Linked DNA regions of Homo sapiens: region 2 is linked to region 1. Evidence: fine-mapped expression QTL. A gene starts in region 1. The other region holds a variant in brackets. All regions are shown on one strand. Distances are from middle to middle. Region 1 holds the start of SLC7A7 (solute carrier family 7 member 7). Region 2 overlaps SLC7A7 (solute carrier family 7 member 7).

Region 1 (9,797 bases):
TAGTAGAGAGGGGGTTTCACGATCCGCCCATCTTAGCTTCCCAAAGTGCTAGGATTACAGGCATGAGCGACTGCACCCGGCCTTTGCATGTATTCTTACAAGGATGTACAGGCACGTGAATGTGTACATGGGTGAATGAGGATTTAAACATGTATGTCTCTATACCCAAATTAGAAGCAGAAAATTGGCCAGGTGCAGTGGCTGTGAAATCCCATCTCTTCTAAAAATACAAAAAATTAGCTTGGCGTGGTGGCGGGCGCCTGTAATCCCAGCTACTTGGGAGGCTGAGGCAAGAGAATCGCTGGAACTCGGGAGGCGGAGGTTGCAGTGAGCTGAGATCGCACCATTGCACTCCAGCCTGGGCAACAAGAGGGAAACACTGTCTCAAAAAAAAAAAAAAAAAAAAAAAAGCAGCAACAGCAGAAAATTAAAAAGGGTTGACTGGCAGAGGTAGGCACAAGGTCAGAATCGAGGAACAAGAGCTGTCAGAAATGACACAGACAAAGATAGTTAAAATAATAGAATTCTAAGGCCGGGAAGGTGGCCCATGCCTGTAATCCCAGCACTTTGGGAGGCCGAGGTAGGCGGATTACCTGAGGTCCGGAGTTCGAGACTAGCCTGACCAACATGGAGAAACCCCATCTCTACTAAAAATACAAAATTAGCCGGGCATGGTAGCACATCTGTAATCCCAGCTACTCGGGAGGCTGAGGCAGGAGAATCACTTGAACCTGGGAGGCAGAGGTTGCGGTGAGCCAAGATCACGCCATTGCATTCCAGCCTGGGCAACAAGAGCGAAACTCCATCTCAAAAAAAAAAAAAAAAATAGATTTCTGGTATTTTAAAGGAATGCAGCCATCTTAGAAATATTACTTAGATGAAATGATCCTTCTCTGCACATGATATAATTAACCATATGCCCACATTTGAGGGTGCTCCAAGACCAATAGATCCTAAAATTAGTTTTGCCAGTAAGCAACCTACCAGATCATCTGCAAGTAATGCAAGAGAAATCACAGATCATATTTAAGACCTCAGTGAAGGCTGGGCACAGTGGCTCATGCCTGTAATCCCAGCACTTTGGGAGGCCAAGGCGGGCGGATCACCTGAGGTCGGGAGTTCAAGACCAGCCTGACCAACATGGAGAAACCCTGTCTCTAATAAAAATACAAAAATTAGCCAGGCGTGGTGGCACATGCCTGTAATCCCAGCTACTTGAGAGGCTGAGGCAGGAGAATCACTTGAACCCGGGAGGCAGAGGTTGTGGTGAGCCGAGATTGTGCCATTGCACTCCAGCCTGGGCAACAAGAGTGAAACTCCGTCTCGGAAAAAAAAAACCTCAGTGAAAACCCCCTTCTTGCAACACAAAGCAGTGCCTTCCACCCCTCCCTGACTGTTGCCATGTATGACAAACATCCCATATGCAGAGATGAGTCCAGGCCAGACACAAGGACACACAAAACACAGAAGGACCCCACAGAAGACAGCCAGTTCTCTACACAACAGTAAAATCAGAGAAGCTGGAAAGGAAGTTGAGGAGTGAATGGGGCAATACAGAAATTGAAAGAAAAAAGGACACAAACTGATTGGAGAGCGGTGAGCCAATGAGCAATTGCACCTGGTGCAAAATTCCTGTGCCCCAACTGCTAGAGCAGCTGCCCCTCAAATTGACAGAATGTCTGAGCTTCTTCACAGTTGCAGGGTGGAAGGCATCTCTAAGGTCCTAGGCTCTCCCAGGTTGGAAGGGCATTTTTCAAGAATAGTGGCATCTGAGGGATGGGGCTATGGAGAATCATCATCTCAGCACCTCCAATGGCTTTACTGAATGTACAGATTTAAATAATGTTTTATTTATGAGATGGAGAAAAAGCCAAGGTGGACTGAAATGACAGTATTAAAAATCTAGCCCACAGAGGCCGGGTGCAGTGGCTCACGCCTGTGATCCCAACACTTTGGGAAGCCAAGGCAGGTAGATCACTTGAGCTCAGGAGTTCGAGTCCAGCCTGGCCAACACAGTGAAACCCCGTCTCCACCAAAAATACAAAAAAATTAGCTAGGCATGGTGGCACATGCCTGTAATCCCAGCTACTAGGGAGGCTGAGGCAGGAGAATCACTTGAACCCAGAAGATGGAGGTTGCAGTGAGCTGAGATTGCACCACTCAAGCCTGGGCGACAGAGTGACTCTATCTCAAAAAAAAAAAAAAAAAAAAAGGAAGAATCCAGCCTACAGAAATACTCATGCAGCTGCAAAAAGATATTCACTGGAGCATTATCTGTAAGACTGAGAAACTGAAACCAACGTACATGGCCATTAACAGAGGACCAGCTAGATAAATAAACTACTATGCATCCTTAAAATTCACATGAAATAATATGAAGCATTTTTTAAAAAGTAGATCTGTAAGTAGAAAAGAATGTCACTGATAATGCTAGAGGAAAAGCACACTGTAGAATTACATGTAGACTAGTATGACCTCATTTTTGTAAAAGAACAAAACTACACCTCTTTTTTTTTTATTTTTATTTTTTTGAGATAGAGTCTCACTCTGTTGCCCAGGCTGGAGTGCAGTGGTGCGATCTTGGCTCACCGCAACCTCTGCCTCCTGGGTTCAAGCGATTCTCCTGCCTCAGCCTCCTGAGTAGCTGGGATTACAGGCACCTGCCACCACACCCAGCTAATTTTTGTATTTTTAGTAGAGATGGGGTTTCACCATGTTGGCCAGGCTAGTCTCGAACTCCTGACCTCAGGTGATCTGCCCACTTCAGCCTCCCAAAGTGCTGGGATTACAGGCATAAGCCACCACACCCTGCCAAAACTACATCTCTTGAAGGAACAAGAAAAAAAAATCAGTGTGCCTGTGGTCCCTGCTACTCAGGAGGCTGAGGCAGGAGGATAGCTTGAGCCTAGAAGTTCGAGGCTGAAGTAAGGTATAATCACACCACTGCACTCCAGTCTGGGTGACAGAGCAAAATACCTGTCTCTTTAAAAAAAAAAAAAAAAAATCAGGAAGAATATGCAAACTGCTAATAGTGCTTACTGTGAGAAGCTGGGGAAAAGGTGAGTGTTTTTGCGATACACTGTGGTACTGTTTGAATTTTCACACAAAGCATACTTTAACTATATATATATATATATATGTTGTCAGAGACATTCCTCTCTATCTCCTTCTTACTCCCAGACTGCACTCACATCCCAGCCTCTGTCCAGCCCTCCACCCACCACCTCCTACCCCAGCCCCACTTACAAATGCAGGCAGCAGCCAGCAGGCGGCTGGCAGCATAAGGGGCGAAGCAGCTCGGGAAGAGAGGCTGTACCATGTAGTTGGCAAAGGTGATGGCAATGATGGCCTGGCTGGTGGGCTCAATGATGAGCAGGGAGGTCCAGAGTCTGATGAAAGCAAGGAATCCTCCAAAGGCCTCCAGGATATAGGCATAGCTGGCCCCAGATTTCTTAATGGTGGTGCCCAGTTCCGCATAACAAAGGGCCCCAAAGACGGAGAAGAGGCCCCCGACAGCCCAGATGACCAGAGAGAGACCAAAGGAGGCACTGTATATGAGCACACCCTTGGGGGAAACAAAGATGCCCGAGCCGATCATGTTCCCCACAATCAGGCACACGCCGTTAAGCAGTGAGATCTCCTTCTTCAGCTTCACCTGCTCCGGCCCTGGGCTGGCCCCATCACCCAAAGGGGAGGTTTCCACCTCAGGCTGGGAGGCCACTTCATACTCAGTGCTGTCAACCATGGTGGAGGAGAGGAAACCCTTCACCAGCTTCCTGGCATTGCCCTTTAAGGAAGAAAGATGATGCTATAGATTAGGTGGTTGGCAATTACATAGAACCTCTACCCGCCTCCAACACAGGGTAATACGGGCAGCTCACCAACCAATGCGGAGACCTCCAAATAACCTTTTCTCCAGCTCACTCATCAAAACAACCCCAACTTGAATATTTGTCTATCTATCTATGTATTTATTTATTTATTGACAGAGTCTCGCTCTGTAGCCCAGGCTGGAGTGCAGTGGTGCAATCTCGGCTCGGCTCACTGCAACCTCAGCCTCCCGGGTTCAAGCGCTTCTCTTGCCTCAGCCTCCCAAGTAGCTGGGATTACAGGCACCTGCCACCACGCGTGGCTAATTTTTTTTTTTTTTTTTTGAGATGGAGTTTTGCTCTTGTTGCCCAGGCTGGAGTGCAATGGCGCGATCTCAGCTCACTGCAACCTCCGCCTCCCGGGTTCAAGTGATTCTCCTGCCTCAGCCTCCCAAGTAGCTGGGATTATAGGCATGCACCACCACACCCAGCTAATTTTGTATTTTTAGTAGAGATGGGGTTTCTCCATGTTGGTCAGGATGGTCTCAAACTCCCGACCTCAGGTTATCCGCCCGCCTCGGCCTCCCAAAGTGCTGGGATTACAGGCGTGAGCCACCTTGCCCAGCCTCCAACTTGAATTTTTAAGAGAAGGCACTCATTCGCCAGAGAGAAAGGATCTGTCTCTCATCATTAGGACATTGCTGCCCACCCGACTCACCAAATAGAGAACTAAATCTTGGGCCGGGCGCTGTGGCTCACATCTGTAAACCCAGCACTTTGGGAGGCCAAGGCGGGCAGATCACCTAAAGTCGGGAGTTCGAGACCAGCCTGACCAACATTTAGAAACCCAGTCTCTACTAAAAATACAAAAATTAGCCATGCGTGGTGGCACATGCCTGTAATCCCAGCTGCTTGGGAGGCTGAGGCAGGAGAATCACTTGAGCCCGGGAGGCAGAGGTTGCGGTAAGCTAAGACTGGGCCATTGCACTCCAGCCTGGGCAACAAGAGCAAAACTCTGTCTCAAAAAAAAAACAAAATCAAAAACAAAACACTAAATGTTGGTTCTCTCTGAGCCTGCTATAATACAAGACAGGCATGGGGGCAGTGTGGCGGCTCCCAGAAAATAACTATAATGGCTTGACCCCGAGTTTTCAGCCTTATCCAAAACCCGTCTTCCCTCCAATTTCAGCTTCAGGGATCACCTGTGCTGAGGTACAACATTAGGAACTGACCCTACCAGCAGCTAATCTGTGGGAGCGTCTCATGACACTGCTCTTTTCCCCAAGGACTCTACGTCTGCCAAAACTAAAGGCTTCAGAAACCTGCTGGAAACCCACAACCATCCTCCTGCCCAAAGAGCATCCCTTAACCCTTAGCTGGAGTCTTCAGCCCTGGCAAAGCCCAAGTAGACCCACTTCACCCTGAAAGAAGACAGGCTATTATCTTTTCCTTGCTTTTCCTTTCCCATTCTCTGGTATTCTAAGCCTCCTGCTATCGATCCCTCACATCAGCATCGTTGAATCACCCAAAAAAGTATGAATGAGAGAAGGGCGATCCAATGTACCATAAAACCTAGGGATGATTGGAGGCAGCTGATGGCCACTCCCTACCCCAGAGTTGCTGCTGGAGAGATATCACCCCGAGCCAAGGCAGGGAGACAGCTGCAGCCAGGCAGCACATGCTGGAAAACACCGAACAGGAGACAGCTGAGAGGAAAATGGGAGAGGCTAGTCAAGCAATGGAGAGATGTTAGGGTGAGAGGCACTCGGGAGAAGAAGCGATTAGACACTGCACAGCAGCAAAGAGGAGGGTTAGCAAGGTAAGTGGAGATGAGAAGAGGGTGGAACGCACACTCACTCCTTGGTCCTGGATATAAGCAGGTTCTCACGGCAGTGTGAGCAGCAGTCAGGGAGAGAAGTGCCTTCCAGGATCTGTGGTCTGATGCTCCTCCTTCCCAGCCAGCAGTAAAAGGGAAGGCCAGACAAATGCCTATGGATTTAAGCAAGAAGGGTGGAGGAGGTGAGGCAGCCCGCAAAGGAAGGAGTGAGGGAGGGGGAAAGGAGTATTAAGCAACCATCTGGGTCCAAGGTTCACTGGCCCTTCACATCTGCAAAAGGGGCAGCTAGGAGCTCTTGGCTCAGCACTTTCTGTGATAAGAAGGTGCTCTCTCAGGAATCTCCTTTGTCAGCTCTGCTCTGGGACCAGGGGCCCAGAAGAAAGGACAGTCAGCTGAGTGCAGTATCTGTAGCCCTGGGGAAGCTGTCCCAGAGCAAGTTAGCTGAGGACAGGACAGTAGCGGGGAAGGAATACACAGCACTCTCTCTCTCTGTGTCCTCCATGCCCCACCCTAGCCTCTCTTCTCTCTCACCCCAAGCATTTAAGAAAGGGAGGAAGGTTGCACAGTGTGACACAAAGGCTTGTTCCCATGCTGAGATTACAGGAAGTGTAAGAGCAGTCTCTACACCATGTGACTGGGTGTTCTAAGAGAACTCTGCACACTTCCCCATGCAAAGAGAGACTGGGGGGTTGCCTCCAAGCCTGGGCCACTGCCCCAAAGTCTGAGCCTCAGACTACTTCAAAAGAAACACAGTCAAGAGATCAAATATCTGACTGCATCCCCACCAGACCCACGTGCCTTTTCATTCTTGACAAAACATACCAAGATCTCTGGGATAAGCATAAATTCCTATAAACGCCTTCCTCAAATATAAGTTGACTCCACTTTCCTAAAAAATATGAGGAAATCAGGCCAGACGCGGTGGCTCACGCCTGTAATCCCAGCACTTTGGGAGGCTGAGGCAGGCGGATCACAAGGTCAGGAGATCAAGACCATCCTGGCTAACACGGTGAAACCCCGTCTCTACTAAAAACACAAAAAAATAAAAATTAGCCGGGCGTGGTGGCGGGCACCTGTAGTCCCAGCTATTCGGGAGGCTGAGGCAGGAGAATGAGGAGAATGGCATGAACCCGGGAGGCGGAGCTTGCAGTGAACCCACATTAGGCCACTGCACTCCAGCCTGGGCAACACAGCAAGACTCCATCTCAAAAAAAAAAAATTAAAAAAGAATATGAGGAAATCAGATTTCACTGAATTCTGTTGGACAGACAGGCCCAGAACAGGCAGAGGAAGCTGAGCACTTTTTGGAAATCACATAGTTTATGCTATCTTTATTATTTACTTTAAATCTGGTATTCTGAGTCTCTTTTACCAACAGAAATAGACCCTATCCATTCTGAAATCCAACTGTCTGTTTCTTCTCCTATCTGTTCTAACCCTCTTTGGTTATTCTACAACCAGAGAATAGAGATCTAAATATCTCTGGGAGACATCTCTACCATACATCCTCCCATTCTAGCTCTTTAAACTTTTAATTTAATCTAGGAGGAGGATTCTGGTGTGAGCGTTCCCAGAGATCATGCTTCTCCCAAGACAGGCTCACAATGATCTGAAATCCTTCTGGAGGAGACTCTCCTTTTCTCCAAAATGCTCCTGTAATAATAATTGCTATCACTTATTGAGCACTTACTGGGCCAGACACACTGCTAAGGACTTAAGCACATTATCTCATGGAACCTCCAGAGCTCATATACTCTTAATCACACAAGTATACTATCTCTCCATCTCCCCATCCCCCTGGCCTGCCTTAGTCTCTAGGCCTTCCTTTTATTTTTTTTTTTTTTTATTTATTTTCTTTTTTTGAGACAGAGTCTCACTCTGTCCCCCAGGCTGGAGTGCAGTGGCACGATCTTGACTCACTGCAACCTCCACCACCTCCTGGTTCAAGCAATTCTCATGCATCAGCCTCCTGAGTAACTAGGATTACACCTGGCTAATTTTTGTGTTTTTATTTCGGTATTTTTATTTTATTTTATTTTATTTTATTTTATTTATTTTGAGACAGACACTTACTCTGTCGCCCAGGCTGGAGTGCAGTGGTGCAATCTCGGCTCACTGCAACCTCCACCTACTGGGTTCAAGCAATTCTCCTGCCTCAGCCTCCCGAGTAGCTGGGATTACAGGTGCACACCACCACGCCCAGCTAATCTTTTTTGTTTTTAGTAGAGTCGGGGTTTCACCACATTGACCAGGATGGTCTTAAACTCCTAAACTCAGGCAATCCGCCCACCTCGGCCTCCCAAAGTGCTAGGATTACAGGCATGAGCCATTGTGCCCAGCCTAATTTTTGTATTTCTAGTAGAGACGAGGTTTTGCCATGTTGGCCAGGCCGGTCTTGAACTCCTGGCCTCAACTGATCCACCTGCTTCTGCCTCCCAAAGTGATGGGATTACAGGCGTGAGCCACCGATGCCACCTTAGACCTTGCTTTTGGACAGGAATTATCTACATGAATTACCTGGGGGAAGATGTAAGCAGACTAGATTAAAAAGAAAGAAAGCCTCTGTCATCCTTCAGTCTATAGCCTAGACGAAAGGCTCCAACAAAGTTTGTTAATCTCCTTCCTGGCTGCCCCTCCCCTTTCTCATTCTTTGCAGGGATAAGAGGTGATTACAAGTCCTCTTGGCAGTGCTGCTATTGCTAGGGTGCCCACTTCTAAAGCAAACAAAAAAAAAAACACAAACACATCATCACGCCTGCCCTTTTAAGACCAAATTCACTGGCACCAAGGGGTGGGCATGTGTCCTAATATGACGTAAAAGAAAGGAAGGAAGGAGGGACAAAGGAAGGGAAAACTGTGAGGGGGAATGGAGAGAGAAGTGTACAGGGTTTCATTCCTGACTGGTAGCATCTGAAAAGTGAAGTCCTATCCGTGGAATTTTGAGACAGAAATCTGCTGGGGGTAAAACCCACACTCCAGCAAACAGCACGCCCTAGTGGTAGCACCAGGAAGTGCTAGTGGACTCTAACCTACTTCAGTCTGCCCGTGCGCACTAGGCAAGGGAGGCTGCCATGCATTGAGAACATGAAGACCCCCTCTTTTCTCAACCACTACCTAGCACCCTGGACAAGAAGGCACCATCTTTGGCAGCTCACATTTCTCCCTGAGACCCTGGGTCTTAGGGTAATGCTTCCACCATTCAGGCAGCCCCACCATTCAGGCAGCCTGGGACCAGCAACACCCCTAGGCTCTCCCAAAGGGGCTCTTCTACCCCAGGTTTTTGGTTTTTTTTTTTTTTTGGTTTTTGGGTTTTTTTTACCCGAGATGGAGTTTTGCTTTGTCCCCCAGGCTGGAGTGCAGTGGCACAATCTCTGCTCACTGCAACCTCTGCCTCCCGGGTTCTCCTGCCTCAGCCTCCCAAGTAGCTGGGATTACAGGTGCCCGCCACCGCGCCCAGCTAATTTTTGTATTTTTAGTAGAGATGGGGTTTCACCATGTTGTCCAGGCTGGTCTCGAACTCCTGACCTCGTGATCCTCCCACCTCAGCCTCCCAAAGTGCTGGGATTAAAGGTGTGAGCCACCGTGCCTGACCCACCCCAGGTTTTACATGAGAAACCCCATAAGATAACAGCAGCCCTTGTTGCCTTTCCCTGTCTGAGATGCATTCATCTCTGAACACCCAGTGAAGATTACAGGACAACACACTCATCCTACAGCTTGTGGAAGAAATTTGATTCAGAAACTGGCAGCAGGGCCTCCAGTATGCAGTGCTGGGCAGGACAGCCAATGGAGCCCCTCACCCTAACCTCACCCTCGAATGACAACACCAAAACACAATTTCTCCAGGAACTAGTACATAATTCGGGGTCTTGGCTCCTCAGCCAAGCTCAGGGAACTACTATAAGAACACACTTTCTCTCCCAGAGACCCCATGTCCTGCCTTCCTGGCTCCAATCAGTCTGTGCTGCCTCCCCTAACAACAGAAACAGAAAACAGATACACTCTGGTATGACTAGATTTCCCCATCACTCCAAGCTAGAAGCTCAGCTCCTCCCTCCCCAGTTCTCTGTTTGTTTTTCTATATTCCACTGTGGCTAAGACAGTCTCTTTAAAAAAAAAAAAAAAAAGTGAAACAAAAAAGAAATTGTTTA
Region 2 (11,908 bases), 26 kb before region 1:
GTGATCCGCCCACCTCGGCCTCCCAAAATGCTGAGATTACAGGCGTGAGCCACCACACCCGTCCCTTTTTGTTTTTTTTTTGGAGATGGGGATCTCACTCTTTCACCCAAGCCAGAGTACAGTGGAGAAATCATAGCTCACTGCAGCATCGAACTCCTGAGCTCAAGGGATCCTCCCAGCTCAGCCACCCTAGTAGCTGGGATCAAAGGTGTGCACCACCATGCCCAGCTAATTTGTTTTAATTTTTTTTTTTTTTGAGATGGAGTCTTGCTGTCACCCAGCCTGGAGTGCAGTGGTGCGATCTCAGCTCACTGCAACCTCTGCCTCCAGGGTTCAAGCAGTTCTCCTGCCTCAGCCTCTTGAGTAGCTAGGACTACAAGTGCCCACCACCACACCTGGCTAATTTTTGTATTTTTAGTAGAGACAGGGTTTCACCATGTTGGTCAGGCTGGTCTCGAACTCCTGACCTTGTGATCTGCCCTCCTCAGCCTCCCAAAGTGCTGGGATTACAGGTGTGAGCCACCGTGCCTGGCTGTTTTAATTTTTTTAGAGACGGGGTCTTGCTATGTGGCCCAGGCTGGTCTCGAACTCCTGGCCTCAGGCAATCCTTCCACCTCAGCTATCTGAGGAGTAACTGGGATTATAGGGAAGAGCCATGGCACCTGGGTGGCTTGTTTACATTTTAATCCCTATTGCTTCTCTACTTCTTTTTTTTTTTTTTTCGAGACAGTCTTGCTCCGTCCCCCAGGCTGGAGTACAGTGGTGCGATCTCAGCTCACTGCAACCTCCGCCTCCTGGGTTCAAGCGGTTCTCCTGCCTCAGCCTCCCGAGTAGCTAGAATTACAGACATTCAACACCATGCCCAGCTAATTTTTGTATTTTTAGTAGAGACAGGGTTTCGCCATGTTAGCCAGACTAGTCTCAAACTCCTGACCTCAGGTGATCCGCCTGCCTCAGCCTCCCAAAGTGCTGGGATTACAGGTGTGAGTCACCGGCGTGGCGTGCCCAGTCTCTTCTCTACTTCTCTATCCATCCATTTGTATCCCTCTCTTTGTCCACCAGTATCCCACCTCCCCCACTCCTGAGCCTGATTTCTCTGACCCACCTTCTAGCCCTGATCTGCTCTCTGTACTGAGCACAGAAGGCTCAGTTTGAATGAGGAAGGGAATCCTACAGAAAGAAACCAGGGAGCAGAGGGAACTGCCTGAAGAGAGCTAGCCCTCCTCTTCCTCAAAGCCTAGCTTCCTCCAGGGCCTCTTGACTGTGGGAGCAGGAAATGGGTATGGCAGGCAGCAGTGCTGACAGGGCTTTTTGTCCCCACCTCAGCGGATACAGCTGACCACTGGCCCCAGAGCCCAGCTAAGTGCACTGCTCTTGAAGTGGAGCCCAACCTCCTGCTTCAGGGCCAAGGACAGGAGGGGACCATGGGGTTAGGATAATATGGAGGCAACTGCAAGTTAACCTCAAGGGCAGAGATGCCCTCCCCTTCTACCTCTAGGGGCAATTCAATCCCCACCCAACACTGGGCCAAGTCTATAAGAGGATAACCTGAAATCACCTTTGACCCTTGACTCGGTGCAGCAGCACTCCTGCTTTGACCCCAGGGGGAGAAAAAAAGAATCTGCAAAGAAGTCACTCGTGGCCGGGTGCAGTGGCTCACGCCTGTAATCCCAGCACTTTGGGAGGCCGAGGTGGACAGATCACGAGGTCAAGAGATCGAGACCATCCTGGCCAACATGGTGAAACCCTGTCTCTACTAAAAATACAAAAATTAGCTGGGCATGGTGGTGTGTGCCTGTAGTCCCATCTACTTGGGAGGCTGAGGCAGGAGAATCACTTGAACCCAGGAGGCGGAGGATGCAGTGAGCCAAGATCACACCACTGCACTCCAGCCTGGTGACAGAGCAAGACTCCATCTCAAAAAAAAAAAAGAGAAGTCACTCCTATAACCATCTAAAAAGATGTTCCTGAATGGATCATCAAACCCAGCCTACATACGGTCCCCGGGAGTAGGAGACTAGTTCTAGTGGTAAGGCCCAGCATCAGCGCTAGAACTAAAAGCCAGAAAGCACCAGACCAGGTGGATCCAGAACAGAACAAAGCTTGCAGGCCCACTCTGGATCAGATGCTCAGGTTTAGTTTAGACACCTAAATGAAACATTTCCTGAAAAAGAACATTAAACCCACAATTCTGTAAGCACTATTACCTTTAAATACACACAATGTAACACACAAAACTTATGATTACAGGCGTGAACCACCATGCCCGGCGTCATTCCATTTTAAAAGTGATCTATAGAGCCAGGCGCGGTGGTTCGCGCCTGTAATCCCAGCACCTTGAGAGACTGAGGCGGGCAGATCACTTGAGGCCAGGAGTTTGAGACCAGTCTGGCCACCATGGCGAAACCCCGTCTCTACTAAAAATATAAATATTAGCTGAGTGTGGTGGCGCATGCCTGTAATCCCAGCTACTTGGAGGCAGAGGTAGGAGAATCATTTGAACCCGGGAGGCAGAAATTGCAGTGAGCCAAGATCACGCCACTGCACTCCAGCCTGGGTGACACAGTGAGACTCCATCTCAAAAAATAAAATAAAATAAAGTGATCTATAGCTCTTCCTTTTACTAAGCCAACAGCGTCTTCCTCCCAGCTTCTACCAGTAGTGCCAGACCCCTCCTCTGTCTCCACACAGAATGAAGCTAAATCCTCTTCCACCCAATGGCCCTTCTTAACATTAAAGATGAATATCACGGCCAGGCGCTGGCTCACGCCTGTAATCCCAGCACTTTGGGAGGCCAAGGCGGGCAGATCATCTGAGGTTGGGAGTTCGAGACCAGCCTGACCAACATGGAGAAACTCCGTCTCTACTAAAAATACAAAAATTGGCCAGGCGTGGTGGCACATGCCTGTAATCCCAGCTAGTCGGGAAGCTGAGGCAGAAGAATCACTTGAACTCGGGAGGTGGAGGTTGCGGTGAACTGAGATCTCGCCATTGCACCAGCCTAGGCAACAAAAGCAAAACTCCATCTCAAAAAAAAAAAAAAAAGCCAGGCGCGGTGGCTCACGCTGTAATCCCAGCACTTTGGGAAGCTGAGGCAGGCGGATCATGAGGTCAGGAGATCAAGACCATCCTGGCTAACACGGTGAAACCCCATCTCTACTAAAAATACAAAAAATTAGCCGGGTGTGGTGGCAGGCGCCTATAGTCCCAGACACTCAGGAGGCTGAGGCAGGAGAATGACGTGAACCCGGGAGGCGGAGCTTGCAGTGAACCGAGATTGCGCCACTGCACTCCAGCCTGGGCCACAGAGCGAGACTCTGTCTCAAAAAAAAAAAAAAAAAAGCCAGGTGCAGTGGCTCACGCCTGTAATCTCAGCACTTTGAAAGGCCAAGGCGGGTGGATCACGAGGTCAGGAAATTGAGACCAGCCTGCCCAACATGGTGAAAACCTGTCTCTACTAAAATACAAAAATTAGCCAGGCATGGTGGCACAAGCCTGTAGTCCCAGCTACTCGGGAGGCTGAGGCAGGGGAATTGCTTGAACCCGGGAGGCAGAGGTTGCAGTGGGCCGAGATCACGGCACTGCACTCCAGCCTGGCCACAGAGCAAGACTCCATCTAAAAACAAACAAAAAGGATGAACATCCTGTCCCCTTGAGTCTTTACTCCTTCAGGCTAAAACCCAGATTTTACAACCCCTTGTGGAGCAAATGTGGCTTCCAGACCCCTCACCATCCCAGGACTGTCATTTATTTCACTTTGTCATTTACTGCATATACTTCACTGTGTCAGTATTTCCCCAGAAATGCAAGACCCCACACAGAAAACTCCAGACCGTGTTGCCGACTACGGAGTCTCAACCTGAAATCATTGTTTACTACAACTCCTTTCTTTCCCACCTCAAAGTGATGAGATCTTTCCTCCCCTCTTTCTGGACCTATAAAAATGATTTTTTTAGCTGGGTGCGATGGCTCATGCCTATAATCCCAGCATTTTGGGAGGCCGAGGTTGGAGGATCGCTTGAGTCCAGGAGTTCAAGACCAGCCTGGGCAACATTGTGAGAACACATCTCCACAAAACATTTTTTTTAGTTAGCCAGACATGGTGGCACACACCTGTGGTCCCAGCTACTTGGGAGGTTGAGGCAGGGGGATCGCTTGAGCCCAAGTGGTCAAGGCTGCAGGGAGCTGTGATCGCACCACTGCACTGCAGCCTGGGCAACACAGTAAGATCCTTTCTCCAAAACAAAAAAAGTGATTTTTTCCCCCCAGATACAGGACTTCATATTTAGTCTTAGTGACTTTCCTCTGAGTTTTTATGCATTATTCTTATATGATATGGGATTTTTCCTTCTTCATTTTATTAGTTCAAATCCCTTCTTTAATTTTGTGAAATCTGCAAATTTGATCAGCATACCTCCTGAGTCTTCACTGAAGTCACCCTAAAAATGTTGACTAGGGCCGGGCGCAGTGGCTCACGCCTGTAATACCAGTACTTTGGGAGACCGAGGAGGGAGGATCACCTGAGGTCAGGAGTTTGAGACCAGGTTGGCCAACATAGTGAAACCCCGTCTCTACTAAAAGAACAAAAATTATCCGGGTGTGGTGGTGGGCACCTGTAGTCCCAGCTACTCGGGAGGCTGAGGCAGGAGAATCGCTTGAACCCAGGAGGCGGAGGTTGCAGTGAGCCAAGATTACACCACTACACTCCAGCCTGGGCGACAGAGTGAGACTCCGTCTCAAAATAAATAAATAAATAAATAAATGTTGACATGGGCTGGCAGCAGTGGCTCACGCCTGTAATCCCAACACTTTGGGAGGCTGAGGCAGGCAGATCACTTGAGGCCAGGAGTTCGAGACCAGCCTGGCAATATGGCAAAACCCCATCTCTACTAAAAGGAAAATGCAAAAATTAGCAGGGTGTGATGGCACACGCCTGTGGTCCCAGCTACTCAGGAGGCTGAGACATGGGAATTGTTTGAGCCTAGGAGGCAGAGGTTGCACTGAGCCAAGATTGTGCCACTGCACTCCAGCCTAGGTGACAGAGCAACACTCTGTCTCAAAAAAAATTTTTTTAATAAAAAAATTAAAATGTTAGGCCGGGCACGGTGGCTCACGCCTGTAATCCCAGCACTTTGGGAGGCCGAGGCAGGCAGATCACAAGGTCAGGAGATCGAGACCATCCTGGCTAACACAATGAAACCCCATCTCTACTAAAAATACAAAAAGTTAGCCGGGCGTGGTGGCGGGTGCCTGTAGTCCCAGCTACTCGGGAGGCTGAGGCAGGAGAATGGCGTGAACCCGGGAGGCGGCGGTTGCAGTGAGCCGAGATCGCGCCACCGCACTCCAGCCTGGGTGACAGAGCGAGAGTTCGTCTCAAAAAAAAAAAAATTAAAATGTTGACTAAGATCAACAGAGCTGTATAGTCTATCACTGTAGACCTTTCTGTATTTGTCATTATTCCACAATGTTATTCAGCCAACTAAGAATCTACCAAACTTTATTTTTATCTAGTCTACCTTGTCAACAAGAATATCATGAGAATTTGCCACGAACCTCTCCGAAATCTGCATACACATGCCTCTGCTCTAACAATCTAATGATGCTATCAAACAATTCAAATCAAATTAGTATATATTTATGTAGAATATTCATAGTTACACCCTTGCAGTAGTCAAAAACTAGAAACAACCCAAATGCCCAGCAACAGTAGATTGAATAAATACTAAACAGCACTAAGAATAAACAATCTGTAATCCTAGCACGTTGGGAGGCCAAGGCGGGCAGATCACAAAGTCAGGAGTTTGAGATCAGCCTGGCCAACATGGTGAAACCCCCGTCTCTACTAAAAATACAAAAATTAGCTGGGCGTGGTGGCGGGCACCTGTCATCCCAGCTACTCAGGAGGCTGAGGCAGGAGAATCGCTTGAACCCGGGAGGTGGAGGTTGCAGTGAGCCAAGATCCTACCACTGCACTCCAGCCCGGGCGACAGAGTGAGACTCTGTCTGG[GA/G]AAAAAAAAAAAAAAAAGTGAACAATCTACGACTACAGACAAAAATACAGAAGAATCTCAAACATAATAAGCAAGCCAGATGCAAAAGTGTACATATAGATTATATCCATTTACATAAAATCAGAGAAAACTAATCAATGCTACTAGAAGTCAGAATAGTGATTTCCCTTTGTGTGGGGTGGAGAGGCAGGGACTGGGAAGAGCATAAGAAGGGCTCAAGGGTGCTAGTTACACATGTGCTCAACTAGTGACAATTCATTAAGCCATAAACTTATGAGATTGCACTGTTCCTTCTGTATATTATATTTGAATAAAAAAATTAAAATTGAACCAAAAAGTGAGGTTAGCAGAGTATGGCTTGTTCTTAGTGAATTCATACACGTTACTAATGATTTCCCACCCTTCTGCTCGTACTTCACTAACCAGATTTAACTTACAAGCCTAGAATTTGGGCAAGAATCCACCTTAAGTTATCACTTCAGAGTGCTGCTCATCCACCTCCGGTGGAAAGCTGGGCTATCACTTGTGGTAGGTAGACTAATGGCCCCCCAAAGATGTCCACCCCCTAATCCCTGGAACCTGTGAGCCATGTTATATTGCATGGCAAGGGAGAATTAAAGTTGCAGATAGAGGCCAGGCGCAGTGGCTCATGCCTGTAATCCCAGCACTTTAGGAGGCCAAGGCGGGCAGATCACCTGAGGTCAGGAATTCTAACCAACATGAGTCAGCCTAACCAACACGGTGAAACCCCGTCTCTACTAAAAATACAAAAAATAGCTGGGTGTGGTGGTGGGTGCCTATAATCCCAGCTACTCAGGAGGCTGAGGCAGGAGAATTGCTTGAACCCAGGAGGCGGAGGTTGCAGTGAGCCAAGATCACACCACTGCACTTCAGCCTGGGCAACAGAGCAAGACTCTGGCTCAAAAAAAAAAAAAAAAAAGAAAAAAGTTGCAGACAGAATGAAGATTGCTAATCAAGTGACAAAACAGGGAAATCATTCTGTATTCTCTGGGTGGGCCCAATGTAATCACAAAAGTTCTTAAAGATGAAAGAGGGAGGCAGAAAGGTCAATGTCAGAGTAGTACAATATGAGAAAGACTCTCCCAGTTACTGCTGACTTTGAAAATGGAAGGGTCCATGAGACTCTAGAAGCTGGGAAAGGCAAGAAGATGGATCCTCTCCTTAAGCCTCCAGAAAGAAACACAGTGCTACTTCATATTAGCCCAGTGAGACCCATTTCAGACTTCTGACCTCCAGAATTATGAGATGATAAATTTGTGTTGTTTTCAGCCACTCAATTGGTGGTAACTTGTTAGAGAAGCAATAGAAAACTCATATGTTGGCTGGGCACAGTGGCTCGCTCCTGTAATTCCAGCACTTTGGGAGGCCAGGGTGGGCTGATCCCTTGAGCTCAGGAGTTTGAAACCAGCCTGGGCAACATAGAGAAACCCTGATTCTACAAAAAATACAAAAATTAGCTGGGCCTGGTGGCGTGCACCTGTAGTCTCAACTACTCAGGAGGCTAAGGTGGGAGAATTGCTTGAGCCTGGGGAGGTCAAGGCTGCAGTGATCCTTGATTGCACCACTGCATTCCAGCCTGGGTGACAGAGCAAGACTGTCTCAAAAAAAAAAAAAAAAAAAAAAAAAAAACCTAACTGCAGGCAGAAAACTGGAAGTAGCACTGGGTGGTACTATTCATTACATTTGTTGAAAAATGGAGAAAGGGGAAGTGAAACCCTTGACAGCTCACTGGATCTTGGTGTACTGAAATTTCCCTCTCACTGCAATCAAAAGAATCTAAATGTGACCTTATGCAAAGAAGGCAGGCATCCCTTATGATAGCAGATCCTCAAACAAGTATGTACCTCTCTCTTTAATGTACTACATGAATCCCAGCTCTTCTAGCAAATCATCATTTTTGAACAAAGTATACTCTTTCATTATCATATTCTAATCAAATATCGCTGATGCCTATGAAATTGTTTCCTCCTTTCAGTAAAAGGTCAAATACGGGCCGGGCACAGTGGCTCATGCCTGTAATCCCAGCACTTTGGGAGGCGGAGGCAGACGAATCACGAGTTCAAGAGATTGAGACCATCCTGGCCAACATGGTGAAACCCCGTCTCTACTAAAAATACAAAAATTAGCTGGGTGTGGTGGTGTGCGCCTGTAGTCCCAGCTACTGGGGAGGCTGAGGCAGGAGAATCACTTGAGCCCAGGAGGCGGAGGTTGCAGTGAGCTAAGATCGCGCCACTGCACTCCAGCCTGGTGACAGAGCGAGACTCCGTCTCACAAAAAAAAAAAAAAAAGGTCAAATACGTTTATTAGCCTTACTTGTAATATTTGTAGATAAGAGTTCAAAAGCATCATTTCTGATCTTCCATCCCATTTTCTCCAAATGCGTTACTGAGCAACTCCTCTCTGCCTTTATTCTCTGCTATGTAGTCTCCAAAATACCCAGATTTATACTTTTATCTAGGCATTTTTCTCCTTGCCTCTAAAATTTCCATTCTAAAGCCTTATTATACACATCTCTCCCAATCCCTATAAACCTCCTCTATCCCTTACCAGGAGTTTATCTTTCTGGTATCTTAGAATCTTAGAATTTACGGTTAGGAACTCTGTTCTGTGTTCTTTTTTCTTTCACATACACAGCCTTCAGCTGACAAAGAGACGAAAATTCCACCTGCCACTCAGTTTGCTACTTTAAACTTCACGTCACCAGTGAGACATCTCAGCTATCTTCTGACTGGTGACATCATTCATCCCACAGCAATTAGCAGAAGGATAGCAGTCCCTAGGCTTAATTGGTGTGAGCAAGCTCTTGGTCACATGTTGCTCAGAAAAACTGCACATTTCTAGGTTAGGCTGGGTCTGTGTATAGTCAGATGCACACTATTCCTGGGGGAAGGCCAAACCCCACAACTGGCATACTCAGGCCTGCTAATACCCTGGTGTCTCCAAAATACTCTACCACTGCTGTTTCCTCAGAAGGTCCAGATATAAGCTCTCTGGAAACGCCTCATATCTGTTACCTAAACCCAGAGATTTCAAGTCTCTTCTTCCTTTTCTTTGCTGCATCCCCATTTGTTTTGTCTAATGTTGGTTTGGGAAAATCTCTACACCTTTTTTTTTTTTTTTTTAATTGAGATGGAGTCTCGCTCTGTCGCCCAGGCTGGAGTGCAGTGGCGCCATCTCGGCTCACTGCAAGCTCCGCCTCCTGGGTTCACGCCATTCTCCTGCCTCAGCCTCCCGAGTAGCTGGGACTACGGGCGTCCGCCACCACGTCCGGCTAATTTTTTTGTACTCTTAGTACAGACGGGGTTTCACCATGTTAGCCAGGATGGTCTCAATTTCCTGACCCCGTGATCCACCCGCCTTGGCCTCCCAAAGTGCTGGGATTACAGGCTTGAGCCACCGCGCCCGGCCTGGAAACTCTCTACACCTTGAAATCACAATTTCACCCTGGCTTCTTTGATACATTATTTCTTCCACTCTCCCTAGGTGCTGTTATTTCTCTCAGATAGCAGATGGCCTTCAAATTATTTTACCTTTCAGACTACAGAAACCTTTTACTCCAGGTGCAGTGGCTCATGCCTATAATCCCAGCACTTTGGAAGGCCAAGACGTGAGGATCACTTGAGGCCAGGAGTTGGAGACCAGCCTGGGCAGCATAGCAAGACCCTTTCTCTACAAAAAAATTACAAATTAGCTGGACTTGGTGGTGCACACTGATGGTCCTAGCTACTTGGAAGGCTGAGGTGGGAAGGTCACTTGAGTGCAGGATTGAGCCCATAACCATGCTACTGCACACCAGCCTGGGCAACAAAGCAAGACTTCGTCTCAGAAAATAAAATAACATTTTTGACCAGGCGTGGTGGTGGCTCACACCTGTAATCCCAGCATTTTGGGAAGCCGAAGTGGGCGGATCACCTGAGGTCAAGCGTTCATGACCAGCCTGACCAACATGGCAAAACCCCGTCTCTACTAAAAATACAAAAATTAGCCAGCCGTGGTGGCGCACGCCTGTAATCCTAGCTACCTGGGAGTCTGAGAGAGGAGAATCATTTTGAACCCAGGAGGCGGAGGTTGCAGTGAGCCGAGATTGCACCACTGCACTCCAGCCTGGATGATAGTGTGAGGCCCCGTCTCAAAGAAAGAAAGAGAGAGAGAGAGAGAGAGAGAGAGAGAAAGGAAAAGAAAAGAAAAATATCTTTTTTTTTTTTTTAAAGACAGAGTCTCGCTCTGTCGCCCAGGCTGGAGTGCAGTGGTGCGATCTTGGCTCACTGCAACCTCCGCCTCCCGGGTTCATGCCGTTCTCCTGCCTCAGCCTCCCAAGTAGCTGAGACTACAGGCGCCCGCCACCAAGCCCAGCTAATTTTTTGTATTCTTTAGTAGAGACAGGGTTTCACCGTGTTAGCCAGGATGGTCTCGATCTCCTGACCTCGTAATCCGCCCGCCTCGGCTTCCCAAAGTGCTGGGATTACAGGCGTAAACCACCACGCCCAGCCAATTAAAATAAAAATTTTAAAGAAACAACCAATTCGCTTACTCAGGTGTCATGGGTGAGAGCCTCTGTAATTGCAAAATTTTGACTGAGACAGTGAAAGAGATCTAACTTAACTGACTCCATCTTGCTTCTAACCTCCAAGCTGCCTTTATTCATTCCCAGGCATAGGCTGAACTAACTTTGGGAGAAACTTAGTTTATAATTTAGACAAAGAGGATAACAGCCCTTTCCCAAAGCAGACCTCCTTCTTGCCTGGGGACTAGATTGCCTTTGTAGGACTAACATTAGCCACAAGATTAGAAATTATGGTTTAGGGCTGGGCACGGTGGCTCATGCCTGTAATCCCAGCACTTTGGGAGCCATAGGAGGGCGGATCACCTGAGGTCAGGAGTTCAAGACCAGCCTGGGCAACATGGTGAAAACCTGTCTCTACTAAAAATAAAAAATAAAATTAGCTGGGTGTGGTGGCGTGCACCTGTAACCCCAGCTACTAGGGAGGCTGAGGCAGGAGAATTACTTCAACTCGGGAGGTGGAGGTGGCAGTGAGCCAATATCACACCACTGCACTCCAGCCTGGGTGACAGAGCAAGACTCCATCTCGAAAAAAAAAAAGAAATTATGGTTTAGGAGTCACGCAGCTGGAAGCTACAAGATTCTGACCTTCCCTAAACTGCTCCTAAGATCAGTGCTTGAGGTATTTTGTAGACCCTGCTCTTGGTGGATCAGCTGGCCCCCACCCAGATCAATAAACTGGCTTAGCTGATCTTGTGGCCCCCACCCAGGAACTGACTGAGAGCAAGAAGACAGCTCTGATTCCCTGTGATTTCATCTCTAACTAATCAGCACTCCTGGCTCACTGGCTTCCCCTGACCCACCAAGTTATCCTTAAAAACTCTGCTCCCAGAATGTTCGGGGAGACTGATTTGAGTAATAATAAAACTCCGGTCTCCCGCACAGCCGGCTCTGTGTGAATTACTCATTATTGCAATATCCCTGTCTTGAAGAATTGGCTCTGTCTAGGCAGTGGGCAAGGTGAACCCCTTGGGCAGTTACACCTCTGGCAAGAAGACACACCAAATGCAATCCCTGTGGGTCACTGGATCAGAGTCCTCCCGCTCTCCTTCCTGGAACTCAGTCAGCACTTTGGTCCCTGTGGCTCTGACCACTCTGAGGGAGCAAGCAGGCAGTTTGTACCAGGAGGGTCTTATAGTAACAACCCCGTGAGTCCCTTCTCCAAGCCGTGTAAATCCAATCCTTATTGGTTTGCTTAGCTAGGGGTCAGTTCAAGTCCTCAGGTACCAGATCTCAAGCCTGAGTGAGCATCAGTACCACCTGAGGAATTTGTCGACCCACAACTTCAGGGCCCCACACCCCAGAGGTTCTGATGCAG

Evidence for each region.
Region 2: its variant is fine-mapped to the expression of SLC7A7 in B cells (Schmiedel 2018, PIP 0.95).

Annotation. Positions count from the first base shown.
Region 1 is chr14:22,809,654-22,819,450 of GRCh38, forward strand. SLC7A7 (solute carrier family 7 member 7) reads right to left here and starts at 5,782. Exons shown (of 10, transcript NM_003982.4): 1 at 5,667-5,782; 2 at 3,247-3,787. The coding sequence starts at 3,745. RefSeq lists silencers at 3,630-3,689, 3,710-3,769 and enhancers at 5,077-5,583, 5,772-5,871.
Region 2 is chr14:22,782,698-22,794,605 of GRCh38, forward strand. All of the region lies in intron 2 of SLC7A7 (solute carrier family 7 member 7), which reads right to left. Among named protein-coding and RNA genes, the nearest start is that of OXA1L, 22 kb to the left of the region's middle. RefSeq lists a silencer at 740-910. The variant GA/G (reference allele first, on the strand shown) is at 6,008.